Homo sapiens: one gene and its partners. The protein of the gene in region 1 purifies or fractionates together with the protein of each later gene. This does not show direct contact. Each region holds a gene or a part of one and is shown on either strand. Other genes may lie near its edges. The genes, in order: LDAF1, MB21D2, COP1, MLYCD, REEP5, ZNF518A and RAB2B.

The links.
Region 2: the proteins of LDAF1 (region 1) and MB21D2 purify together in Homo sapiens (co-immunoprecipitation; 2 studies listed by BioGRID and IntAct, with this or other methods). This does not show direct contact.
Region 3: the proteins of LDAF1 (region 1) and COP1 purify together in Homo sapiens (affinity purification with mass spectrometry; one large-scale study listed by BioGRID and IntAct). This does not show direct contact.
Region 4: the proteins of LDAF1 (region 1) and MLYCD purify together in Homo sapiens (affinity purification with mass spectrometry; one large-scale study listed by BioGRID and IntAct). This does not show direct contact.
Region 5: the proteins of LDAF1 (region 1) and REEP5 purify together in Homo sapiens (co-immunoprecipitation; one large-scale study listed by IntAct). This does not show direct contact.
Region 6: the proteins of LDAF1 (region 1) and ZNF518A purify together in Homo sapiens (affinity purification with mass spectrometry; one large-scale study listed by BioGRID and IntAct). This does not show direct contact.
Region 7: the proteins of LDAF1 (region 1) and RAB2B purify together in Homo sapiens (affinity purification with mass spectrometry; one large-scale study listed by BioGRID and IntAct). This does not show direct contact.

What each region holds. Positions count from the first base shown.
Region 1 is NC_000016.10:21,165,174-21,168,673, reverse strand, and holds part of LDAF1 (lipid droplet assembly factor 1), read right to left. Parts: intron 1,835-3,500; coding exon of another isoform or gene 1,763-1,834; intron 1-1,762. UniProt on the Homo sapiens protein: Plays an important role in the formation of lipid droplets (LD) which are storage organelles at the center of lipid and energy homeostasis. In association with BSCL2/seipin, defines the sites of LD formation in the endoplasmic reticulum.
Region 2 is NC_000003.12:192,911,357-192,914,856, reverse strand, and holds part of MB21D2 (nucleotidyltransferase MB21D2), read left to right. Parts: intron 1-3,500. UniProt on the Homo sapiens protein: Probable nucleotidyltransferase that catalyzes the formation of cyclic dinucleotide second messenger in response to some unknown stimulus.
Region 3 is NC_000001.11:176,043,287-176,046,786, reverse strand, and holds part of COP1 (E3 ubiquitin-protein ligase COP1), read left to right. Parts: intron 1-462; coding exon 463-606; intron 607-2,968; coding exon 2,969-3,077; intron 3,078-3,500. UniProt on the Homo sapiens protein: E3 ubiquitin-protein ligase that mediates ubiquitination and subsequent proteasomal degradation of target proteins.
Region 4 is NC_000016.10:83,905,615-83,909,114, forward strand, and holds part of MLYCD (malonyl-CoA decarboxylase, mitochondrial), read left to right. Parts: intron 1-1,372; coding exon 1,373-1,485; intron 1,486-2,511; coding exon 2,512-2,668; intron 2,669-3,500. UniProt on the Homo sapiens protein: Catalyzes the conversion of malonyl-CoA to acetyl-CoA.
Region 5 is NC_000005.10:112,884,228-112,887,727, reverse strand, and holds part of REEP5 (receptor expression-enhancing protein 5), read left to right. Parts: intron 1-544; coding exon 545-713; intron 714-3,500. UniProt on the Homo sapiens protein: Plays an essential role in heart function and development by regulating the organization and function of the sarcoplasmic reticulum in cardiomyocytes.
Region 6 is NC_000010.11:96,154,297-96,157,796, forward strand, and holds part of ZNF518A (zinc finger protein 518A), read left to right. Parts: intron 1-1,029; 5' UTR 1,030-1,080; exon of another isoform or gene 1,081-1,627; 5' UTR 1,628-1,751; intron 1,752-1,900; 5' UTR 1,901-2,026; coding exon 2,027-3,500.
Region 7 is NC_000014.9:21,466,960-21,470,459, forward strand, and holds part of RAB2B (ras-related protein Rab-2B), read right to left. Parts: intron 2,258-3,500; exon of another isoform or gene 2,250-2,257; coding exon of another isoform or gene 2,227-2,249; intron 2,221-2,226; exon of another isoform or gene 2,134-2,220; coding exon of another isoform or gene 2,083-2,133; intron 1,794-2,082; coding exon 1,711-1,793; intron 1,491-1,710; coding exon 1,398-1,490; intron 1-1,397. UniProt on the Homo sapiens protein: The small GTPases Rab are key regulators of intracellular membrane trafficking, from the formation of transport vesicles to their fusion with membranes. Rabs cycle between active GTP-bound and inactive GDP-bound states.

The DNA of each region.
Region 1 (3,500 bases):
AATCATAATTATAATATTGTATAATTATATTAGATATATTATACTAATATTAGTTATCAATATTCATATAGCATTATTATATATTATATAAATATATTATATTTATATATGTATATAATTATAATATGTATTATATTATTTATATATTATTTATTATAATTATAATTATTAAAAGCATTATTATTAAAAGCATTATTAAGCATTAAAAGCTAATCACTTGTCTATTAGTAAGCATTAAAAGCTAATCACTTGTCTATTCACTTGTCTATTAAAAGCTAAGCTCAGCATTAAAAGCTAATCACTTGTCTAGAGTCGCACAGCCTCCAAGTGGCAAAATCTCAGCATTAAAAGCTAAGGCCTGGCCAGCATGGTGGCTCATACCTGTAATCCCAGCACTTTGGGAGGTGGAGGCAGGCGGGTCACCTGAGGTCAGGAGTTCAAGAACAGCCTGGCTAACATGGTGAAACCCTGTCTCTTTTAAACATACAAAAATCAGCCAGGCATGGTGGCGCGTGCTGGTAGTCCCAGCTACTAGGGAGGCTGAGGCACGAGAATCGTTTGAGCCTGGAAGGCGGAGGTTGCAGTGAGCCAAGATGGCGCCATTGCACTCCAGCCTGGATGACAGAGCAAGTCTCCTTTTCTTTTCTTTCTTTCTTTTTTTTTTTTTGAGATGGAGTTTTGCTCTTGTCGCCCAGGCTGGAGTGCAATGGCAAGATCTCGGCTCACTGCAACCTCCGCCTCCCGGGTTCAAGCCATTCTCCCGCCTCAGCCTCCCGAGTAGCTGGGATTACGGGCGCCCCCACCACGCCCAGCTAAGTTTTGTATTTTTAGTAGAGACAGGGTTTCACTATATTGTCCAGGCTGGTCTCGAATTCCTGACCTCAGGCGATCCACCCGCCTTGGCCTCCCAAAGTGCTGAGATTACAGGCGTGGGATACCGCGCCCCACCGCAAGTCTCCTTTTCAAAAAAAAAAAAACAAACCTAAGGTCTTGGACTCAGAATGTCCAATGCTTGCAACAGCTGCCACCACATCAAGTAAAAATGCTTTTATGTCATCAACCTGGTTACCATAGTTGGCCACAGCCTGTGACTAATGCAAGTTTATGTTGTGTTAATAGTTTATTTTCCTTCACCGGGCAAAAAGGAATTTTCGATCTGACTCAATGGAGGGAGACTGCTTTAACGCAGAGCTGGCCATAGGCAAATCCGCAAAGATGGGTTTCCCCCTCTCCTCCTTAGGCTCCACGCCTTCTCTCTCCTCAGTACTGGTATTCTAGATCCTGTTCACTTGAAAGGAACCATTATTCCAGAACCTCCTTCCATCATAACTGGTCCTTCCTGAGCCTCATCCCTACGGCCTTGCAGGCCAACAGATGAAAAGAAGACATAATTCAGGTCCCCAAAACACATGTGCCTCCTAGGAAGAAGAGTTTACCCAAGTGGTTTAAACAGTGGGATTTTCAGGGCGAGTTGGAAGGCAGGAGGGGTTTGTGGTTCATGCTGAAGGAACTAAAGTGCAAGCTGCACCCTGCTTAAATAAAAGAGGCCATGCCAAGAAGCCACAGCCATTGGTCTTGGGCTTCAGCGTGGTCTCCTAAGGATTACTCTCGAGGCATGGCCAATTTCACTCCCTGCCAGGCCACAGGACGGCATAATGCCCGCTGACCTCACTGCCTCCTGCTACCCCACCATTCTGACAAAAGCCACCAAAGAGCTTGCTATTCCGCTTCTCTAGCCAGAGATGACTGTAGCAGGAATCACCTTGGAGCCAGCACTGCCCAGCCTGGACACTCCATCATCAGAGTCCAGTGAGATCCTGCTGTGTTGGGGCAGCTGAAAGAGAAAGAGAGGCGGAGGAGCCGTGGGAGTCACCACACAGAATGTGGGCTGGTCCCTTGCGCTGTCTCAGGTCCTGACTTCTTTCCAGTTCGAATCCACATGCATCCTTATTTGATGCTCCCTGTGTCACCTGATCTTTACAATCCAAAGAACCACAGTGGGGAGAGCAGATGGGCTCTCCAGGAAAGGGAGGCAGCAGTACACCCGTGAGTATGCTGCGCCAGCGAGGGAAGGGCTGTGCAGCGGAAGGAACTTGTGAGGCTGGGACACCAGGACACTGGGCTTGCTAGCTTATCCCCGGGCTGTCCATCACAGGCCACCTGCGCCATTCAGCACTTGAAATGCTCCTCCTGTGACTGATGGCCTGGATTTCCAATTTAATTTAATTTAAATTTTAAAGCTGAGACTTGATTCAGTTGTTGGAAAAATTTTAAGTATGTTTCCAATAGGTTGGGTATGTGAATCTATTTCGCTGAATTGTAAGTTTTATAAAATCTGAATAGAGATTAAATATTTCCAATGAAAATTTGGCATCAGAATTGAGATGTGCTTTAAGTGTAAGAAAAAAAAATGCAAAATATCTCATTAATACTTTTTTATATTACCTGTTGAAATTATAGTGTTTTGGATATATTGTGTTAAATTGAGAATATATTATTAAAATTAATCTCTGGCTGGGCACGGTGGCTCACACCTGTAATCCCAGCACTTTGGGAGGCTGAGGTGGGCAGATTACTTAAGATCTGGAGCTTAAGACCAGCCTGGTCAACATGGTGAAACCCCGTCTCTAGTAAAAATACAAAAAAATTAGTCAGGCAGAGTGGTGCGTGCCTGTAATCCTAGCTACTTGGGAGGCTGAGGCGGGAGAATCACTTGAACCCGGGAGTCAGAGGTTGCAGTGAGCCGAGATCACGCCACTGTACTCCAGCCTGGGCGACAGAGCGAGACTCCATCTCAAGATAAATAAATAAATAAAATTAATCTCATTTGTTTCTTTTTGTTTTTAATGTAATTATTAAAAAACTTAAAATTATATATGTGGCTCACATAATATTTCTGCTAGACAGCACTCATTTAAATTTCATCTGGGAAAAAAAAAACAGGGAACAAACTGCTGTCATTTGAGCAGAACTATGACATGATTAAAGGAATGATTTAAGAAATATGAACCTAGCAATCATGTGCAAGAGGCAGGTAGAAAGATTTGCAGGAAATCAGGCAAGATATACTGTGGTCAAGTCCAGGCTGATGGCAGAGAGGGAAGAGAAGGGGGAGGGGTAGATGGGTATGAAAGTGGAATGACAAAAGAAGGAATACACAGGACTTAGGGACTGTATGGCACAGGGATATAAAAGGAAACAGGCAAGACTGTTCCACTTCAGTCCTTAAGGAATCCACCTTTTTCTTAGCCTTTTGTTTTTTTGAGATGGAATCTCACTCTATTGCCCAGGCTAGAGTGCAATGGCATGATCTCGGCTCACTGCAACTTCCGCTTCCCAGGTTCAGGCGATTTCCAGCTAATATTTATATTTTTTAGTAGAGATGGGGTTTCACCATGTTGGCCAGGCTAGTCTCGAACTCCTGACCTCAAGTGATCTGCCCGCCTCGGCCTCCCGAAGTGCTAGGATTATAAGCATCAGCCACCATGCCCCGCCATTCT
Region 2 (3,500 bases), on another chromosome or scaffold:
CTGTCAACACCAAGACACTCCACTGTCTTATCAAAGTAGGGTTCTGCACAGGCTGTGGGGTTGATCTGAGCTTGCTGGTGGTCACTGTGGTCTCTGGGGTCTGTCCTGATGCTCTCTGTTTGTACAGAGATTCTGATTTTTTTTTGGAGGCAGGTGTTAGCTGCAATTGTCTAGATTCACTTCTTATTCCTCTGTACCTTGGTCTTTTAGGAGAATGATTGGTGTTATTATCTAGTTAATATTTGAGAGCCCAGACTGTGCGAAAGGCTGGCAGTGCATAATAAACACCATTTATCAAAATTCAGGGAAATTGCCAGAGTTCATTAATGTTTTAATAATATTTGGTATTAGCATAATGTCTCTGCCAGCTCTTTTGTTATCTTCATTCCCTGGTGAGGTTCGATAGAGACTGGTTTGTGTCCCCATTGAACAGATGCAGAAAAGGGGGTATGCAGATGCTGGAGAAGGCAGGAAAGAAACAAGCCGTCACCTAACCTACAGACCAAGTGGTCGGTACCATGGCATGATTTTTACGGTAGTTAATCATTTACTAATCATCTTCTCAGGGCCAGGAACTTCACATAGACTTTTGAGGAGGTATTGCTTTCCCATTACATAGATGAAGATATTGAAATTTAGTGGGGTGAAGAAAGTGGATATCCAGGGTCACAAAGCTAATAGATGGTAGAGATGCTACTGAAACTCAGGTCAGCCTTACTCTAAAACATGTTCCTCTTCTCCTACTTGAGACTATTAAGAATAGATGCATAAAATCCAGAGGAAAGGCTTTGTTTTAAAAAATCACTTCTTTCAGGATTTTGTTTCGATTTTAGCTATAAGTTTTAGCGTAATATAAGTAGATTTCTGGAACAGTCTGAGTTCAAGTATTCTATAATAAGATCTCCTATTTGAATTTTTGATTGAGAAAATCATAGTAATTATAATAAAATGTTAAAATCTATAGTTTCATTCCCAGTCTGCCTCTTGTTGGCTTTGTGGTCTTAGTATTTTCTCTCTCTTTTTTTGAGACAGGATCTTGCTCCGTTGCCCAGCCTGGAGTGCAATAGTATGATCATGGCTCACCGCAGCCTCAAAGTCCTAGGCGTAAGCTATCTTCCTGTCTCAGCCTCCCTAGTGGCTAGGACTAGAGATGTGTACCACCGTGCCCAGCTAATTTTTTATTTTTTAAAATTTTTGTGTAGATGGAGTCTCACTATGTTGCCCAGGCTGGTCTCAAAATCCTGGCCTCAAGTGATCCTTCTGGCTTGGCCTCCCAAAGTGCTGGTATTACAGGCATGAGCCACCATGCCTGGCCAGTTTTTTCATTTATTAAACATGGATAACAGTAAGCATTGTTTTTCAGAACTGTTATGTCAGAATGTGAAATTACTTTGCTAACTAAAAAAGAATATATACGTGAGTTTATTATTTAAATAAATGTTTGTTTATTTATTTATTTGAGACAGGGTCTCGCTCTGTCACCTAGGCTAGAGTGCAGTGGTACAGTCTCAGCTCACTGCAACCTCTACTTCCTGGGCTCCAAGTGATCCTCCCACCCCAGCCTCCCAAGTAGCTAGGAGTGCAGGCGTGTAACACCACGCCTGGCTAGTTTTTTGTATTTTTGGTAGAGACAGGGTTTCGCCATGTTGCCCAGGCTGGTCTCACACCCCTGAGTTCAAGCAATCCTCCTGCTTTGACCTCCCAGAGTGCTGGGATAAAAATATACTTTCTTAGAAGATCCAGTGAACTTAAATTGGAATTATTTCTGCAGCTTGACATCTGAAAGAACTATGCAGTACAATTAGGGTAGCCCAGGAGGATTTTGGCTCATACCATGTGCTGACCATTGTGCTAGCTACTTTGCCTAAGTCCATTAGCTCATGTAATCTTTTTTCCACAACTTTGTAAGCATAAGTATCATGCCTATTTTGGAAGTGAAATAGGTGTTGTTACCCTTTTTAAAGATGAAATGGTGAGGCTCAAAGAAAGAAGTCAAGAACTTAGGCCAAGATCATTCAGAGTTGGAGACTGAATCCAGTTATTCCTGACTCAGAAGCTCATGTTCCTTTTACTGTAGTAGCAATCAGTTTCCATCACTTTTGGGTGAGACATACTATACTCAGTAGCCTGCCTAGTCTGTAGGAGCAAAGATAATTTCTTTTTTTCTTTTTTCTTTTTTTTTTGAGATACAGTTTTGCCCTTGTTGCCCAGGCTGGAGTGCAGTGGCATGATCTTGGCTCACTGCAACCTCTGCCTCCTGGGTTCAAGTGATTCTCCTGCCTCAGCCTCCCGAGTAGCTGGGATTACAGGCGCCCGCTACCACACCTGGCCAATTTTTGTATTTTTAGTAGAGATGGGGTTTCACCATGTTGTTGGCCAAGGCTGGTCTAGAACTCCTGACCTCAGGTGATCCACCCACCTCGGCCTCCCAAAGTGCTGGGATTACAGGCGTAAGCCACCATGCCCCGCCTGAGATAATTTCTTTTTGTCTTCCTGTCTCTGTCCCTCTTTCTCTCCCTCTGTTTTTTTCACGCATTTGACAAATACTTAATGAATGTAATAGTGTTTGCCAATCAGCGTGCAGGGTTCTGAAGATAAAATGGTGAACAAAAACTTTGAGAAATTCATAAGGGCCTTCAGGGACCCCTCCCCTGTTTCCTTTGCCCACCAACTCTAGCAGGATATTTTGCTGGCTGTTTCTCCTTTCAGGCCAATAAGTGCCATGTGGCCATTTCAAAGATGTAAATGCTTGGTGTGGTGCTCCTGGACCTACCATATTTTTAGGCACTTTCTACATCTCCAGAGTGGGTAATTTTGAAGCCCTACCTTTCCAGTGTTTGATTGCTACTTTTCTGTTAATGAATTCCCCCAGCAGGATTTACCATGGAAATTTATGGTGCGTTGGTGTTTTATGGGCCTCCATGTGCTTGGAAAGTTCCCGAGAGTTGTATTCACTATGTGCTGCATCTGTAGAGTGCACAGGATCATCTCGGAAGTTTGTTCTATCTCTGAGAACATTATGTATCCAGGGCAGGGGATCTCTCCAAACATTCATTTTTGTGCTAGTTTGGATTGGTTTCAATTCCCCCTCCATGGTTCTGGGCAGTGGCTGCCCTTCGTCCTTGAGAGAAGAGGCCTAGAACTGTCGACAGTCCTGGGTCTTCCTGTCATTCCTTGTCATGCCACTCATTGGATAATACATTGCTCACAGTTAGGCTGAGCCCCTTTTTAATTCACAGAAATATTAGATTCTAACAATTCAAAATCTCTGGTCCCATTCAGACCTATTGAATCCGAATTCCCTAGAGATCCCCCAACAAGCTGCTCAGCATGTCAACATCCTGTCCTGTGTTAGGCTTGATGTTCTGCATTCTCTGTTCTAGGCACAGTGAGCATGATCCCAGTTGACTTTTGAGACTAGAACCAAGCTGCTGAGCCTAATGAGCAGATAATGTCTGTCTGCTCCTGGAAAGTAATAGTGGAGTTCTTCCACCTGGGAC
Region 3 (3,500 bases), on another chromosome or scaffold:
CAAATTATATACTAATTTATTTATTAAAAATAAAATTTAATATTGTGAAATTCTACTACCTCCACAAAATGGCAGGGAAATAAGTAGAATGTATGGAAAAATTAGTTGATAATTGTCTTTTGGCATACTTTTAGTATATCAAATGATTCACGCCATTAAATCTTTCTCAGTAAGCTGTAATATGGTTATTAGAACTGAATGAAAAGCATGTCAGGTGTCTTGGAACAAAAGTACACCTGTGCACAATTGTGTAGATATACAAATGTATATATTAAAAGTTTTATATTACACAAATCTCAACAACTTTTAATTTGATATGTGTTGATTACTTAATCTGGATATGAGGTCTAGTACAATTTGAAGGTATTTAAAGTAGATCTTTTATCCTTGTAGACCGAATTACTTTAGAAATAGAAAATAGCAAATTCTGAAATGTTGTCATTACATACTTTTTCCCCTTAGTATTGAATTTGACCGGGATTGTGACTATTTTGCGATTGCTGGAGTTACAAAGAAGATTAAAGTCTATGAATATGACACTGTCATCCAGGATGCAGTGGATATTCATTACCCTGAGAATGAAATGACCTGCAATTCGAAAATCAGGTATTTACATTATTTTCTTGACATGATGCAGTATAGATGTAACAATTTGCATATGTAATTATCATGAGATTATTTTACCTTTGCATGACACTTTTTACTCATGGTGAACACTATTATTGTACTATGTATACAGAGTATATATTATTACTTATATCATCTTTCTTACAGATATTGGTTGCTTTTTTCTTGTGAGGTTAGCCTTTTTTTTTTTTCTGGTTGCCAAATTAAAGTTCTTCTTTCACTTAATCAAATAAAGGTCTTTGTTGGACATGGTTGTTGGAGACTCTATGGAGTACTGAATGAGGATTAATGTAGCTTATGAATAGTATTTGAACATCAGGAATTTTTCCCCTAGCCTGCACATATCTCAACATATTAGAATTGTTTCTAGTTTTAAGAATTTTTTTTACAAGAATATTCTGCTTTTCACTGAAGGAATGGTGTTTATGTTTTCTGTATTAGAGATTATACTTTATAAGCAGTGCTTTTCAAACCTAAAATACTCTTAAACACTAACAGTATGTTAAGACTCTACTCCTGATCTGCTCCCCAAAAAATCTCAGAAGAATTCTAGAATCTGCTTTTTTTTTTTTTTTTTTCCTTCTAAACAAGCTTCCCAAGCTGTTCTCATGAGCACTGGCTTTAAAAGAGAATTATATGAGGAAATCATCTAATAATAACTTTGTATAGAACTTTGAACATTTTCAAAATAGCCATCCTTGAACCTTTTTTATCTTTAATGAATGGCATACATAGTATGTTTGTTACAGTCTTTGTATAATTTATTTGTTATAACTTTCTTTTTTCTAGTTCATTTATAAAAATACTATATCGATAATTGGTGAGCTTCCCCATTCATTTGTGGCACTCATCATTGAGAATCTGTTATAGTTTATGTCCTAAGTGAAGAGGATATAACATGAATTAGATACAAGTTTATTGAATTCTTATATATCAGGCATTATCCTAAGTGCTTGGTCTTTAGCAGACCTATGAAATAGTTACCATTATTGCTCCATTTTATACAAAGAAAGCTGAGCACAGGAAGGTAAATAACCTGCCTAAGATTATACACCTGCTATATAGAGGAGCCAGGATTCAGACTGAAGTAGTTTGGTTCTAGAGTCTGTGCCCTTAAACATTTCCTGCTCCTTATTTATAAAATGGAGGTCACAATAGTAATACTTATTTAATAGGATTGTACTTTTAAAAAATCCCCATAATGCACTCAGAACAACACTTGGCCCATGGCAAGTACTCATAATATATTACATAATGAAAACGTGGATTAGAAAGTTTAAATGTGCTGTCTACCTGTTCTGTATTTGTATGTGTAAAAATGTGCAATACTTCCTGATATATTGGAATAAATGGTGAAAGCGCTCAAGGCTGAAAGCTGTGGGCCTGGGGCTGAAAGGATCAATACCTAAGGATGCCTAAAATAGATTCGGAGCACATCTACTGTGAAAGTGTACTAAATTAGCCAGAGCCACAGCTAATAAGTAACAGATCTGGAATTTGAACTCAAGTCTACCTAAATTCAAAATGTGTCTCTTAATTGTTCCAGATAATTTCTACCAGAAATTCTAATTAAGTATATTTAAAAATGCAAATAAACTCTTCCAGTCTCTGGAATTTAGCATCAATGCAACTAGTAGAAAGCAAAAGACCTTGTGTTCATGTCTTAGAAGTTACCTACATTAACTGCCTTCTAAGTAACTTCTTCCATAATATGCATTCCCTTTACTATATGCGTGATGCAGATATGTATCTCAGCAGAAGTTTTTAGATGTTGTAGACTTCTGGAGTACTTGAGAATAGCCAAAACCATAAATGATAAAAGTTTGATTCTAACTTTTAGATGCTTTTAATTGGAATTTTAGTCATAAGTTATAATTAGTCAAGTCAAGACTTTTGGGATGTAAATACAGAAACCCAATTCACTGTAGTTTATTTGGCTTATATGATTTGGCACAACTGGATCCAGGGGGTTAAACAGTCTCATCAGGTCTGTCATTCTGCCATGGTATGCCTTGAGCCCTCTGGATAGTATCACCTTCACTGATAGACATCGTTTCCTCATGTATCAAAGATGGCCAGTGATAGCTCTAGGCTCACATCCATCTTAACAGCTAGTGATCACAGTAAAAGGTGGTTAGGGTCATTACTTGTTAATTTTTATTTTTAAAATTTCAAAATTATTGGTATGTCTTTTCCCAGGTATGTTGTGGGCAGAATAATGATTGTGAACTGATAGAGACCATTTTAAAATAGTGCAAATCTTTCTGAACACATTAAAATTATTTTTATCCCATTGTTATTTATTTTTATGTAAAGTAACTTTTAACTGTATTTCTTTCAGCTGTATCAGTTGGAGTAGTTACCATAAGAACCTGTTAGCTAGCAGTGATTATGAAGGCACTGTTATTTTATGGGATGGATTCACAGGACAGAGGTCAAAGGTCTATCAGGTAAATAAGGGTACTAGTTACATGTTATATGAATCATACATTTGGTTTGTTAAAACTTTTAGAACTTCATGTGCCTTATAATTACAGATTTGAAGTCACTATTTAGTATTTTTTATACCTGTGTAACACCTATGCAATACCAAATGCTTTTTTTTCCTGTCTCCCACTTTTGGTACCATATGCTTTTCCAAAGCATTTCTTCAGACTTCGGTCTTTATGGAATGTATCAGGTAAATTTCTAAAAGCAATAATTTTGGTAAATGTATAAAAAGTTTTGGAAGTACTTTATATCAACATCTTATTTGCTTTTCATTTGTTTTCTAGCCTGTTGTCTTTCCCTCTCCCCGTAACAATAAATTGATATCAGGTTTTTTTTTTTCTTGCTTTATTCATTTTGAGATCTGTATTCTATCTGAGGCTACT
Region 4 (3,500 bases), about 63 Mb from region 1:
CAGTCTGCAGTGGAAAGGACAAAGAAAAAGATGGGCCAAGGGCCTGCTCCTGCTGTCTTTTCAAGTTCCCCAAAGTGGCTGCAGGAGACCTCTGCTTACCCCTCATTGACCAGAACTCTGTCACATGGCTGCCCCCAGCCGCAGTGCAATCTTTGTTCTGGACAGCTGTGTCCCTAGCTGAAAAGTGAGGCTTCTGTTAATTTGAAAGAAAAGGGGTACAGCCATCGGGGAACAACAAGCTGTGGCTGTGCAGGCAGCACCGAGGCGACGCTGCTCCTGCTCAGGGCCTTGTGTTCTGCTCTTGCTGGAAAAGCTTCAGTGCAGATGTATCTTGGGTGGTCAAGTCAATTCACATCATTTTTGGAAGTAGATACAATATAAATAAGTGAGGCAAAATTAGGATAATTTCATCAACTCTGAAATGCATTGGTTGCCAGATACGCTATTATTTTATGTCCCTCTAAGGTAGGTTAAAAATGCTGCCAGTTACGGCGGGGCACAGTGGCTGACGCCTGTAATCCCAGCACTTTGAGAGGCCGAGGCAGGCAGATTGCCTGTGCTCAGGAGCTCGAGACTAGCCTGGGCAACGTGGCAAAACCCCATTTCTACAAAAAAGACAAAAAAAAATTATCCAGGCTTGGTGGCGCTCACCTGCAGTCCCAGCTACTTGGGGGGCTGAGACAGGAGGACCACATGAGCCCAGGAGGTCAAGGCTGCAGCGAGCCGTGTTCATGCTGTTGCACTCCAGCCTGGGTGACCGAGTGAGACCCCGTCTCTTAAAACAAAAATGCTGCCAATTAGTCTGTGACCCGCCATCATTCGAAAGATGCATCCTGACTTGAGAGATGTTAAAATATGAAAATGTACATCTCTGAGTTGATGAAATAGGGTTCCTGAACCAAGTACTTGTCTTTCTTAGGAAATGTAGGCGTAATGTTTTGACGTATCAAAGAAGGTTCCCGAGAGGATGAGGACAGTGCTGTTGACACCCTTGCTGTCTTAGTGTTTCCCTTACAGTGCATCTTTCATTGTTATGTTGATTTTATATGATTAGTATGCTCACTATGGTGAACGAATTGGAAGATATTATTTGATTTGGGCAACTTAGTTCAAATTGAATTGTTTCCTTCAGAGGTCTTAACAGACTGAAGTAGTTAAGTCTAAATAGAGCGTTGAACGAAAGAAAGCCTGACTTGGTTTGAGATAAGATGTCTGACAGAGGAATCTTGGGAAAAGCTGTTTGGAGAGTTGTCTTGCACAATTGTCTTATGTATCGTGCTTGAGTGTTTTCATTCCTTGTGCTGACCACAACACAGAGATGGGCTTGATCTGTCGCACATTGGAGGCCTGGGATTTATCTTCTCCTTTTCAGGAAATGAATGGGGTGCTGAAAGGAATGCTCTCAGAATGGTTTTCCTCCGGGTTCCTGAACCTAGAACGGGTTACCTGGCATTCACCGTGTGAAGTGCTTCAGAAAATCAGTGAGTAAGTATTACGGTTTTCATTTTCTTTGTACATACATTTTTCATATATATTTGTGTATGTTTTATATTGGCTAAAAGCTAATCTATCTCCATTCATATGTACAGTTTATTTCAAGTCTAATAAAATCCAAACACAGTATTTGCAAATGCTGCGGCTGTCACCACACATGATACTAAGATTATGGAGGAAGACGAAAGGGCACCAAGAGAAACTGATATGTCTGTCAGTGACCTGCGTGTGAGGTCTTATTTGTGTCCTCTTATTTAAAGCAAACACACCCATTTTCGCTCGTCCCAAGACCCCGTGATCAGAGTTGTAGAAACTCACTGGACCAAGCGTTTGCATTCGTAATCAAAACAGTATTTAGCCCACCTGGTGGTTAAGATTTCTCCCTGAGTTAAAATCTCTAAACAAACTATATCATGTGTTAGTTACATCCAGGACCCGTATGACACAGGCTAGCATGTCACGGTGCCTTCACTACCTTTGCACGTAGGCATCTTCACATTACATGTTGTCCCATGGAATCCATGGTTTGAAAAGTGTCCTATTTGAAATGTAACCAATTCAATTCAAAGGGCTGACAGTGCCTGCTGCCATTTCACATGCTGAAAACAAAATAGCGGTGGGGCGAGATTGCTGGAAGACACCAGATGAGCCCCCTGATTGCAGCACTGACGGCTTCACAGAGATCCCAAGGAAAGAAAAGACAGTGTTCAACACCAAGCGTTTGATTAGGTTTCACGTTAAAATCTGCATGAATCCTTCCCCGGAGCCTCACAAACTCCTTTTAAAACTGGGGTTAAAACTGGAGCACAATTTTGTGTGTAAAATGGTCATTCACTGTAGTTCCTCTCAGTGGGTGCTGTTTCTCATGAAAATGACTTTCTTTGAATTTTCCAGAAGAGTCCATTAAAGCTCTATTTAAAGAACTTGTTTGACTTAGACGAATAGTATGAATAGGAGTCAGCAGCCGTTGCTTGTGAATTATGCATTTGTCTTGTCTCTTTATAAATTCCGCCCCAGGGCTGAGGCTGTGCATCCTGTAAAAAACTGGATGGACATGAAGCGCCGCGTTGGGCCCTACAGAAGGTGTTACTTCTTTTCTCACTGTTCGACCCCTGGGGAGCCCCTGGTCGTTTTGCACGTGGCACTGACTGGTGACATCTCCAGCAACATCCAGGTACCTGCGATGGTCAATTCGGGACAAGATGGGCACCCCATAGAGCCCCTTGTGTTTTTTGTTTTGTTTTGTTTTTACTTGATTTTATCCTCCTTTTTTTTTTTTTTAAATAAATGGTTTTGGGCTTTTTTAAATTGGTTAAATAAAATCTCCAGATTTGTAGGTGTAGAGCGTAGAAGTGTAACAGGCAGACAGTTATGGAGCAAGGCGAGCATTCATCTGGCTGTGTTGATCTTAGGTTGAGATACAGTTAAAGTCTATCACAGAACATGTTTGTGAGGCAGAAAATAATTGTGAAGGAAGAAGGGACAGATACCTGATTCATACATAGTTTACCTTTACAGCTTTTGTTAAATGCCTGTGGGGAGTTTTGAAAGATACTTGATTAGAAAATTGAAAGAGGCACTCCATCCCTTATGCTTGATGTGGGCCGAGGACACTCCTTGGCGAGTGGAGGTTATGGGACTTGTGGTTGATAGCCCCGTCTGTGGCAAGCTGCTCTGCTCCTGGATGAGTTTGGCAAGAATGTCTGAAACACTCCTGCAGGCCCGTGGGGGCAGAAGAACCAGGGAGCACATTGCAGGGTCTGGAAATAGGAGTGCTAAAGATAGGTGGCAGGGAGCATGAGACCCCTGGGGCATTGCAGGTTTGCTCAGACCAAGAGGACATGAGTGGCTGTTAGGAAGCTAAGTGGATGATGGCCCATCACAAGATGAGTGCCCTAAGCAGGTGTCCTGCTGAGAAGTTAGAGAAGCTGAGTAGGGCAAATGAGCAGACATTCCTGATCACCAAGGAGAAACACATTCCCTTACAATGTTTGTGTGTGAAAGAG
Region 5 (3,500 bases), on another chromosome or scaffold:
ATGAAGAACAACTGTAAAGATTCCTTGAAGGCTAAGATCTACCCAAAACTGAGGTCCACCAAAGGAAGAATTCAGGAATGGACAAGGTATTTTTTCCATAATAGGATGAATAAATGTGATAAACTTACCAAGATAAGCCTACCAAGCACAGGCCTCCTAGATATTAGGCTTATCTGTACAGGGCTTTATACATGCAGATAAGTACTATATTTTCTTAAATTGATTTCTAAGAGTTATGATTAATAAAAGCCTCTTACAGCTATATACTAAAACGTGGTCCAAGTTAGGAAGATAGTTAAGCTCCTGGACCTGGTGTGTTTTACCTTTTGTTTTTTAGTCTCAGCTTTTCCTTACCAGCTCATTACTCATCATGTTTTTTCCATCTAAAGAAAGCCCACCTTTAACCTGCAGAAAACACTGGTAATGCCTTTGGGGAAAATAACAGAGGCATCTCCCATCCCCAGAGTAGTGAAAGACAGTGTGTATTCTCAGAATGTGCCCCCTCCACCCTCCTGTTACCCATGCTGGCTCTTTTTCTGTGCAGTGTGGCTTCCTGTTGTGGTGCATGGCCCCGAGCCCTTCTAATGGGGCTGAACTGCTCTACAAGCGCATCATCCGTCCTTTCTTCCTGAAGCACGAGTCCCAGATGGACAGTGTGGTCAAGGACCTTAAAGACAAGGCCAAAGAGACTGCAGATGCCATCACTAAAGAAGGTAAGACTCAGGAACAAGATGGCCCCACATGTGAGAGGAGATGTGACACACTGGGCTCAAATAACAGGCTTCCTGGCCTTCTTGTCTTATCACCACCCCTCAGCCAAATGCCAACATTACTCTGGGATTTCTTTACAAAGTCTTTGCCTATTGAGAACACTTACAGTTCTCGACTTTTCCCAAGACTCTTCCTCCATGCCACATTTAATGTAGCCTTCAGTCAGAACATTAGGAAAAATGACTTTCCTTGGTAGGCAGCGATTTTAGAGAATCATCTATATTGATATGCAAGTCCATCTCTTCTAATTGTTTATTTAATTTTTTTGTATTATACTTAATTACATAGGTAGTTTTAAATAAATGGAGAAAGCACCTTTCAAAAGCTATACTAGCAGGAAAAATTCCATCAAGCATTTACGTAGTAAATTTCTATAATTTTACAAAAAATTCTTGATCTTTACTTGAACTGTACATGAGGGGAAAAGAGCCCCCTCAGGTATGTGTTCTCTCCACTTGCAGAAGAAAACTAAAGGACCTAAAACTAGAGACAAGCCTGGGATGCCAAAAAGCGGGAGGAGAAATGATAAAGAGCCATTCATGAATTCCATGTCTACTCTAAGACACTTGTCTAATCACCCTCACATAATAAATATTTAGGGCAAACTACCACTCTTTAGAAAAAGTACAACCTCAAAACCTATAGTTCTGAATTGTAACATATCGAATACCTTGGACTGCTGGATGCCAAAAGACAATACTTGGGGTTATCTATGACGTTTAAACAGGTAAATAGGGGAATTCTCTAGGACTGTACACTCTGTGACGTTTTGAATGAAGCGCAGGCAGGCTTCTCTGCTATCCTCCAGGCAGTGTAATAGTCAAGGAAAAGAGCAACAGTATTGGATCACTCCTTAGACACTAACCAGCTGGTGAAAGAGTTCATTGGCCAGTCTCCTCCTTAGAATGGTTTGCACCAAGTGGAGAGGCCATGTCGCTGAAGGGGAAAGGGGAGCCCTCATACCCACAGTCACTGTAAACATCCAGTAGACAGGAAGATGGCTTCGGGCAGTGGCTGGATGGAAGTAGATTGGAGATACCCAGGTCTGGAATGAAGTCATCTTCCACAAAGTCTTCCTTCACTGAGACCACGAATTCTGGGTGATCATTCTCTAAAAGGCTGAGAGGTGCTTCCTTGATTTTCACTACCGCATTAGCTTGGCTCTCTGTCTCAGACTACGGGCTTGGCATATATGTAGTCAAAATTAATTAGTTCATTAATAGCTTCAAGCTTGGCTGATAATGTCCCCACTGACAGAGAAAGGGAGGCTGGTTAGGAATTGGGTCCTTCTGAGTAGACCTCTGGGAGCTGCTCCAGGCTGGCAGACCCTGGGGAAGGACATTTGAAGAACACTAGTGGGTCTAAGTTGTCCAGAATGCCCAACAGGATATCATACTGGGAAGGTAGTTGATGTTTACTTCCAACCCCACCACAACTAACTTCTACCCTCATCTGCCTAGTTAGGGATGTCAAGCATCAAATAGATGGAATTATCTTGGCTTTCGCCTCCTCTTCAGTAACCAGAGCATCCATCCCCAAGTGCTGTCTTCACTCATGGTTCTCAACTACGAGTCCATGCATTTTCTCTTGTAAAAACTGATTTTCTAGCAAAAGTTTTTGGTTCTGTTCTAAATCTACCACTTGCTGTTTCAGGTCACTCATTTGAGCTTGCTTTCTGTCTCTGGCAGTTTGAGCTGCTAATCCTGTTTTTCCTCCTCAGTGCCTTCTCCTTGGGGCTCCCCACCCCCACAGCACTCACCATCTCCTGGCTGGCTCCTCTCTGGGCTGGCACCATGAGCAGCAGGGCCTAGCTGGCCAAGGCTGTAGCAGCAGGCTGACCAGACAGAAGCAGTACTTTGGAGGCCCTGACGGCCAGCCTGATTCAGTTCAGATTGATCGGTTCAGTATGCTGTTCAGTTTTTGTTATGGGTACAAAAGAATGTCCACTCTCAGCTCTGATTAATTCACTCAATAAATATTTATTTATTGAGGTGTTTAATATGTGCCAAGCATGTTCATAACACTGGCAGTGAACCAGCATACCGAAGAGACCATACTCCTTGAATTCATGAAGCTTACAGTCTAGTTGAGAGATAGGCAGTAAAATTGAAAATTAGATAGTATATTTACCATATAATATAGGGAAAAAATAAAGCAAGTAGAAAGATGGGGGGGGGCCAAGGACTGGAGGGATGGTTATGATTTTAAATAGAGACGTTTAGGAAATCTATACCAGAAGGCTCTACTGAATCAGACTCAATAGTAGTAAAGGAATCAGGAACAGTGACTCAGCCTGTAATCCCAACATTTTGGGAGGCTAAGGCAGGAGATCACTTGAGGCCAGAAGTTTGAGACCAGCTTGTTTGTGACAGGGTCTCCTATGGAGACCCGCTCTCTACAAAAATTTAAAAATTAGCCGGACGTTGTGATGCAAGCCTGTGGTGCCAGCTACTCAGGAGGCTGAGGCAGGAGGATCACTTGGGCCCAGGTAATCAAGGCTGCAAGTGAGCTGTGCCACTCTAGCCTGGGTTACAAAGCAAAACCCTATCCCCCTAAAAAAAAAAAAAAATAGAAAATGGTAAAAGAAGGAACCATGGGGAATCATACTTTAGAATGAGCTGCATATACAGAAGTCCGGAGGTGGGAGCAACAAAAGAAGTGATCTAGAGGGGTGCAGGAGGAGATGAGGTGGAAGAAGTTGCGAATGGAGGCTGGAAGACGTATCACAT
Region 6 (3,500 bases), on another chromosome or scaffold:
TGCACTGCAGCCTGAGCGACAGAGTGAGACCCTGTCATCAATCTTTTCTTTCTTTCTCTTTCTCTGTTTCTTTCTTCCTTTCTTCCTTTCCTTCCTTCTTTCGTTTCTTTCTCCTCCCTCCCTCCCTCCTTCTTTTCTTTTTTTTCCTTCCTTCCTGCCTTCTTTTCTTTTTTTTCTTTTCTTTTCTCTTAACAAAGCAGTGAGTTAAAACCTGACTGTTGGATTGTAGAGCCTTCAATTAGTGTCTAGTTCATTCTCCTAGAAAGACAAGTGCTCTGCTTGGCTAGTCATTCTGAAATCATCTGTAAGCCCCATCTTAGTTTAAGAATAGCCATCAGATAATTCTTCTCAGCCTTTTCTCCTGGTTTCCTGACAGTTCCAGTTACTTTTTCAGCTTTTCTTCTTTTAGGGCCCTAAAAACCCTTCATGAGGCCTTCATCTTGTGTTACCTTTTCTTTGTAATACTAAAGTTTTATGACAAACATCCCATTCTGGATTCACATTTTACTGTATTAGTCATGGCATGTAAAACAATTCAATAATTGGTACCCTTCTGATTAATTTATTATAGATCTCTTAATATGTAATTCAACTTTTAATGATTCCCTCAGTAAAGGATTTCTAAAACAGTAAAGTTTGTAGGTATTTAGATTAATTGAAGTTTAAAGCTGAGACCTTTGGATAGACATTATGGATGAGGAGCTTAATGTGATTTATACTATGTTTTGTTTAGCTTATCTGATTTTGTCTATTCATACATATATATATATATAAAGCACAAAATTAAAAACATGTAATTTTTCTAATAATACAGTTTGATATATTAATGACTGAACCTTCAGTATTCAGATTCCTGTCTCAACAATATATTGTTATGTCCCATACGTGGTAATCACATAGAGTAATAGTGGTAGCTGTGATTTATATGGCACTTTAAAGGATATTTTTACATATATTTTCTCATTTTATCTTCACAACAACCTTGTGAAAGACATAGGGGAAGTACTAATTTTTCCCCCCATTTTACAGATGAAGGAACTGAGACACAGAGGTTGAGACTTGTCTAAAGTAACATGACCAGTAAGTGCTTGAATTAATGCAGGTAGGTAGTGATGGGTATGTTCTAATCTGCCAAGGGCTTTTCCTTGCTGTCATCTGGCTTGAGTTCTGAGGATATAAATTCATATAGCCAAAATGGTAGGGAACCAGAAAGGTAATGAGTAGATGGACTTTAGGACTACACTAGGGAAATGGTGCTGCTGTTCTTTTTAATTTCTTCCTTTTTGTTCTTTTTGTTTGGTTTCTAACTTGTTAGTAATGATAAGCAGATACCGTCTTTGGTTGTTTCCGTTAGATGAATGAAGCTTTTGTTTTAATTGTAGATTATCCCTGAGGAACTAAGGAAATAGAAAATCTGGAGAGAAGTCTGTTGGGATTCTCACAGGGAATAGCTATTAGATCAACTAAGCAAATGAAAAAGTTAATAGTATATGGATAAACCACATGTGTGTAATTGGAACTTCTTAGGATTCTAAGATTTTTAAAATCTTGTTTAAAAACTGTATTATCACCTTAATATAAAAATCTTAGCGCTTGAGCGTACTTACCCAACTGTGGTTTTCTTTAGATGAGGAAACTGAGGTCCAGAGAAGTTGAAGTTTTCCCAAGGTCACACAGCAGAGCTGGAACTAGAGCTTGCATTTCCTGACTTCCAGATTAGTGTTATTTTTACTTCAAACTATTACTTCTTGGTAAGCTGTTCTTAAAATACTTAAAAAGTCTTTTGTATATTTAATTTATGTTTTTGATTAACATTCCTACTTTGTGCCAAAATGAACTTACAGATACGAATTTACTATTATTTTTGTGATGAGAATTTCAATTCTTTGTTTAATTTTAGGTGAGTTATTGTGGGAAAAATCCTGTATATTGAAGATGTCTCTACACAGTATCGTTTCCTGTTTAAATTACAGATAACTTCAAGAGTTTTCAGAAAAAAAGAAATTGGGACTTTTTTGGTTAAATCATGCCATCTGAACAGAAACAGTTATTTTGTGATGAAAAACAAACTACTTTAAAAAAAGATTATGATGTGAAAAATGAGATAGTTGATAGGTCGGCACCTAAACCAAAAATTTCAGGAAGTATTCATTATGCACTAAAAAATGTGAAAATTGATTTGCCAAAAATAAATATTCCAAATGAAGTCCTATTGAAACATGAAGTTGACAAATACAGAAAATTATTTCAGAGTAAACAGCAGACTGCAAGAAAATCTATCAGTATAAAGACTGTAAGCTGTGTAGAGGAGTGTACATTGCTTCATAAGTCTGAGAGAGCTGAAGAAGAGGGTGTAAAAATGTCTGCAAAAATACTCAATTTCAGCTGTTTAAAATGCCGAGACAACACTCGATATAGCCCAAATGATTTGCAGAAACACTTTCAAATGTGGCACCATGGCGAATTACCTTCATATCCTTGTGAAATGTGCAACTTTTCAGCAAATGACTTTCAGGTATTTAAACAACACAGACGAACCCATAGAAGCACTTTAGTAAAATGTGACATTTGTAACAATGAGAGTGTATATACTTTACTGAACTTGACAAAGCATTTCACATCCACACATTGTGTTAATGGTAATTTTCAATGTGAAAAGTGTAAGTTCTCCACCCAGGATGTTGGCACATTTGTTCAGCACATTCATAGACATAATGAAATTCATTATAAGTGTGGTAAATGTCATCATGTATGTTTTACCAAAGGAGAGCTTCAGAAGCACCTTCATATTCATTCTGGTACTTTTCCCTTCACTTGTCAATATTGTAGCTATGGTGCCACCAGGAGAGAACACCTTGTAAGACATGTTATAACTTTGCACAAAGAACATTTATATGCAAAAGAAAAACTGGAAAAAGACAAATATGAAAAAAGAATGGCAAAGACTTCTGCAGGACTTAAGCTAATACTGAAAAGATATAAAATAGGTGCATCAAGGAAGACGTTCTGGAAACGTAAGAAAATTAACAGTGGAAGTGACAGAAGTATAGAAAAGAACACTCAAGTGCTTAAGAAAATGAACAAAACACAGACTAAATCTGAAGACCAGAGCCATGTTGTTCAAGAGCATTTAAGTGAAGAAAAGGATGAAAGACTACACTGTGAGAATAATGATAAAGCCCCTGAATCAGAGTCAGAGAAGCCAACTCCTCTGTCCACTGGGCAAGGTAATAGAGCTGAAGAGGGACCAAACGCTAGTTCAGGTTTCATGAAGACTGCTGTACTAGGACCTACACTGAAAAATGTAATGATGAAAAATAATAAACTAGCAGTTTCCCCTAACTATAATGCTACGTTTATGGGCTTCAAGATGATGGATGGAAAACAGCATATTGTATTAAAATTGGTGCCTATCAAACAAAATGTATGTTCACCAGGCTCACAGTCAGGTGCTGCAAAGGACGGTACTGCTAATTTGCAGCCCCAGACTTTGGACACTA
Region 7 (3,500 bases), on another chromosome or scaffold:
GCAGTGGCACTATCTCAGCTCACTGCAACCTCCGCCTCCCGAGTTCAAGCAATTCTCCTGCCTCAAGCTCCCAAATAGCTGGGACTAGAGGTGCGTGCCACCACGCCTGGCTACTTTTTGTATTTTTTCAGTACAGACGGGGTTTCACCATATTGGCCAGGCTGGTCTTGAACTCCTGACTTTCTAATCTACCCACCTCGGCCTCCCAAAGTGCTAGGATTACGGGCTTGAGCCACCACGCCTGGCATATTTTTTCTTTTTTTTATATAGGGTCTCACTCCTGTTGCTGAGGCAGGAGTGCAGTGGTACAATTACAGCTTCATTGCAGCCTCGACCTCACAGGCCCAAGTGATCCTCCCACCTCATTTAAAAATTTTTTTGTATAAACAAGGTCTCACTATGTTGCCCAGGCTGGTCTTGAACTTATGGACTCAAGCAATCCTTCCAGAGCTGGGATTACAGGCATACGCCACTGCGCCTGGCCTTTTTATTTTCAAACAGTTACTAAGCGGTTATAAAAAATACTCATGTTGTTTGGGTATAACTATTTAACAAAACTATTAGGTATTTCTTTTGGCCTATGGGTGTCAAAAAAAATTTACTGATAATAACCAGTGTTGTTAAGGATGTAGAGAAACTGGAATCCTTGTACATTGCTGGAAAGAATGTAAAATGAGACAGCTGCTATGGAAAATGGTATGGTGGTTCTTCAAAAAATAAAAGAATTACCATATGATCCAGCAATCCCACTTCTGGGCATATACCCAAAAGAATTCAGAGCTGGGACTTGAACAGATCCATGTTCATAGCAGCATTATTCACAATAGTCAAAGGATGGCAGCAACCCAAGTGTCCATGGACAGATGGATAAACAAAATATTGTGGTATATGCATACAATGAATATTACTCATCTTTAAAAAGGAAGGAAATTCTGACACATGCTACAATATGGATAAACCTCGAAGACATTATGCTAAGTGAAATAAGCCAGTCACAAAAGCACAAATATTACATGAGTCTACTTGTATGAGGTACCAGTAGTAGTCAAATTCATAAAGTAGAATGATGGCTGTCAGGGGCTGAGGGATGAGGGGGATGGGGGAGGGAAGATGGAGAGTTAGTGTTGAATGTGTATAGAGTTTGAGAAGATGAAAAAGTTCTGGAGATGGATGTTGGTGATGGCTGTGGAACAATGGATATTCTTAATGCTACAGGACTGTATGCTTAAAAATAGTTAAAATGGTAAATTTTGTGTCATATATATTTTATCACAACAAAATTTTTTTTTTTTACTGAAACACTAAGACCACTATAAACTGAGAAAGTTTGGGGATCAATGTGCATAGAGTACCTAGATGACTCCTGTTAACTATTATTCACATGGATACAATTTTACCTCTTATTCCCAATGAGCATGATAACCATGTTGGAACTAGAGTGCTGCCGGGCATCCTCTAACCATGAGGTCAGGTGGTTGAAGGTTTCACGCCTACAGCAGAAAAATTTAGAATGTGGGTCAGAGACACATTTCAAAAGGCCAAAACAACTCCAAGCGTATACGAAAAGAGGGGAAGCCATACGTGTAAAGAAAAATATTAGAGAGGCCATTCCTAGTTAACATCCTTAACAGAATCAGTAGATAGAAAAAAAAAAAAAGCTTTAGAGGATTTAGGGAAGAATCTCCCTCCCATGCACCAGATCTGGCTCACCTTGTAATGTCGTACACCAGCAGTGCTCCAGCTGCTCCCCTGTAGTAGGAACGGGTGATAGAACGGAAGGATTCTTGCCCAGCCTTTCCCACCAACATGGCAACAAAAAATCCCAACAAAACCAGGTTATTTCCACAGAACCGACTTGATCACATGCCACCCTAATACAAAGGACTTAACTAAAAAAAGAATTTCTATTACGAAAAGAGAATTAGGGAAAGAAAACATGCCTGCCCGAGAAGAAACCCAAGTGGGAAATCAATATTTTTCTATGGGAGTGCATTGATATTTTGGGCAGTCACTTACTCTTCCTGAGAGACTGTCCATCAGATTAGTGGATGTTTAGCATCCTAGATCCCAGTCACTAAATACCTGTGGCACCCCAGTCAGCACGATAAAGACGATGAAGACATTTGCATACATTTCCCAATATCCTCATAAAAGAACAACTGGAAATAGGACTGGAAACGGAGTGTATGTCATTTTTTTCAATCCCAAATATGATATTGAACACACCATATTAATCTTTCTGTTCCCATTTCTTTATCTGTAAAAAGGAAAGTTATCTTAGAATGCCAAAACCTGGTCTAATAGAAATTTCATTCCAATGAATCAATATAAAAATTAGATTAAAAGCACTTCAACTGATTATCTTCTAACTGACCTTTAGTGTTCCACTGATAATGCAAGACTACCTAGATGTCCCTTGCTGGGCTTCTGTCATGGGAAATAGGAATAACAAACAGAGAAAGAAGCCCAGGGCCCAGCATAGAGTTTTCCTAGAAAAATCCAAATGTTCACACTCTAATCTCATTTCCAGTTGGACAAAGATATTAAGTTCTATTTAAAACTGAGTAATTTATTAATGCCCCCATAATACTGGGTACTTTTGCTTTCTTGATGGACTAGTTCTTTTTTTTTCCTTTAGGGAAAACAAAAACATTTTTTAAATAATATGAATACCCTGTACATTGAATCTATCCTATTAAGAAAGTTTTCACATTCTTGAAATAATTTATCCTTACATCCCTACATAACAGGAGGTAAGACTATAATTTATAGGTTACAAATGGGAGAATCATGATTAAGGATGTGGGAAAATAAATGGCTTTCTCATAGTATAATACCAGTAACAGTGGTAACACTAATTATAACACTGCAATAGTACTATAAACTACTTTTTGGCATATAAAATGTGCTACGAACTTTAAGAGACAATTACATATATTATTTCATTTACTTCTCTTAGCAACCCTGGGGCCGATATTATTATTCCCTTTTTTTTTTTCTTTTTTTTTTTGAGAGGGAGTCTCGCTCTGTTGCCCGGGCTGGAGTGCAGTGGCGCAATCTTGGCTCACTGCAACCTCCGCCTCCCAGGTTCAAGCAATTCTCCTTGCTTCAGCCTCCCAATTAGCTGGGATTACAGGCGCCCACCACCATGCCTGGCTAATTTTTTTGTATTTTTGGTAGAGATGGGTTTTCACTATGTTGGCTAGGCTGGTCTTGAACTCCTGACCTCATGACCCACCCGCCTCGGCCTCCCAAAGTGCTGGGATTACAGGCATGAGCCACCGTGCCTGGCTTATTATTTCCTTTTAAAAATGGGGAAAATGAGGCTCACACAAGTTTAATAAACGGCCCCAAATCATAAAGCTTATTAAGTGCTAGAGCCATAATTTAAACTTAGGATCTTAGTACTTCCTAGGACAAAAACTTGTCCTCTTAGCCACTATATCATATAACCTAAACTGGGGTTTGTAGGTGAGAAGAGAATTCCAGTATACTAACTC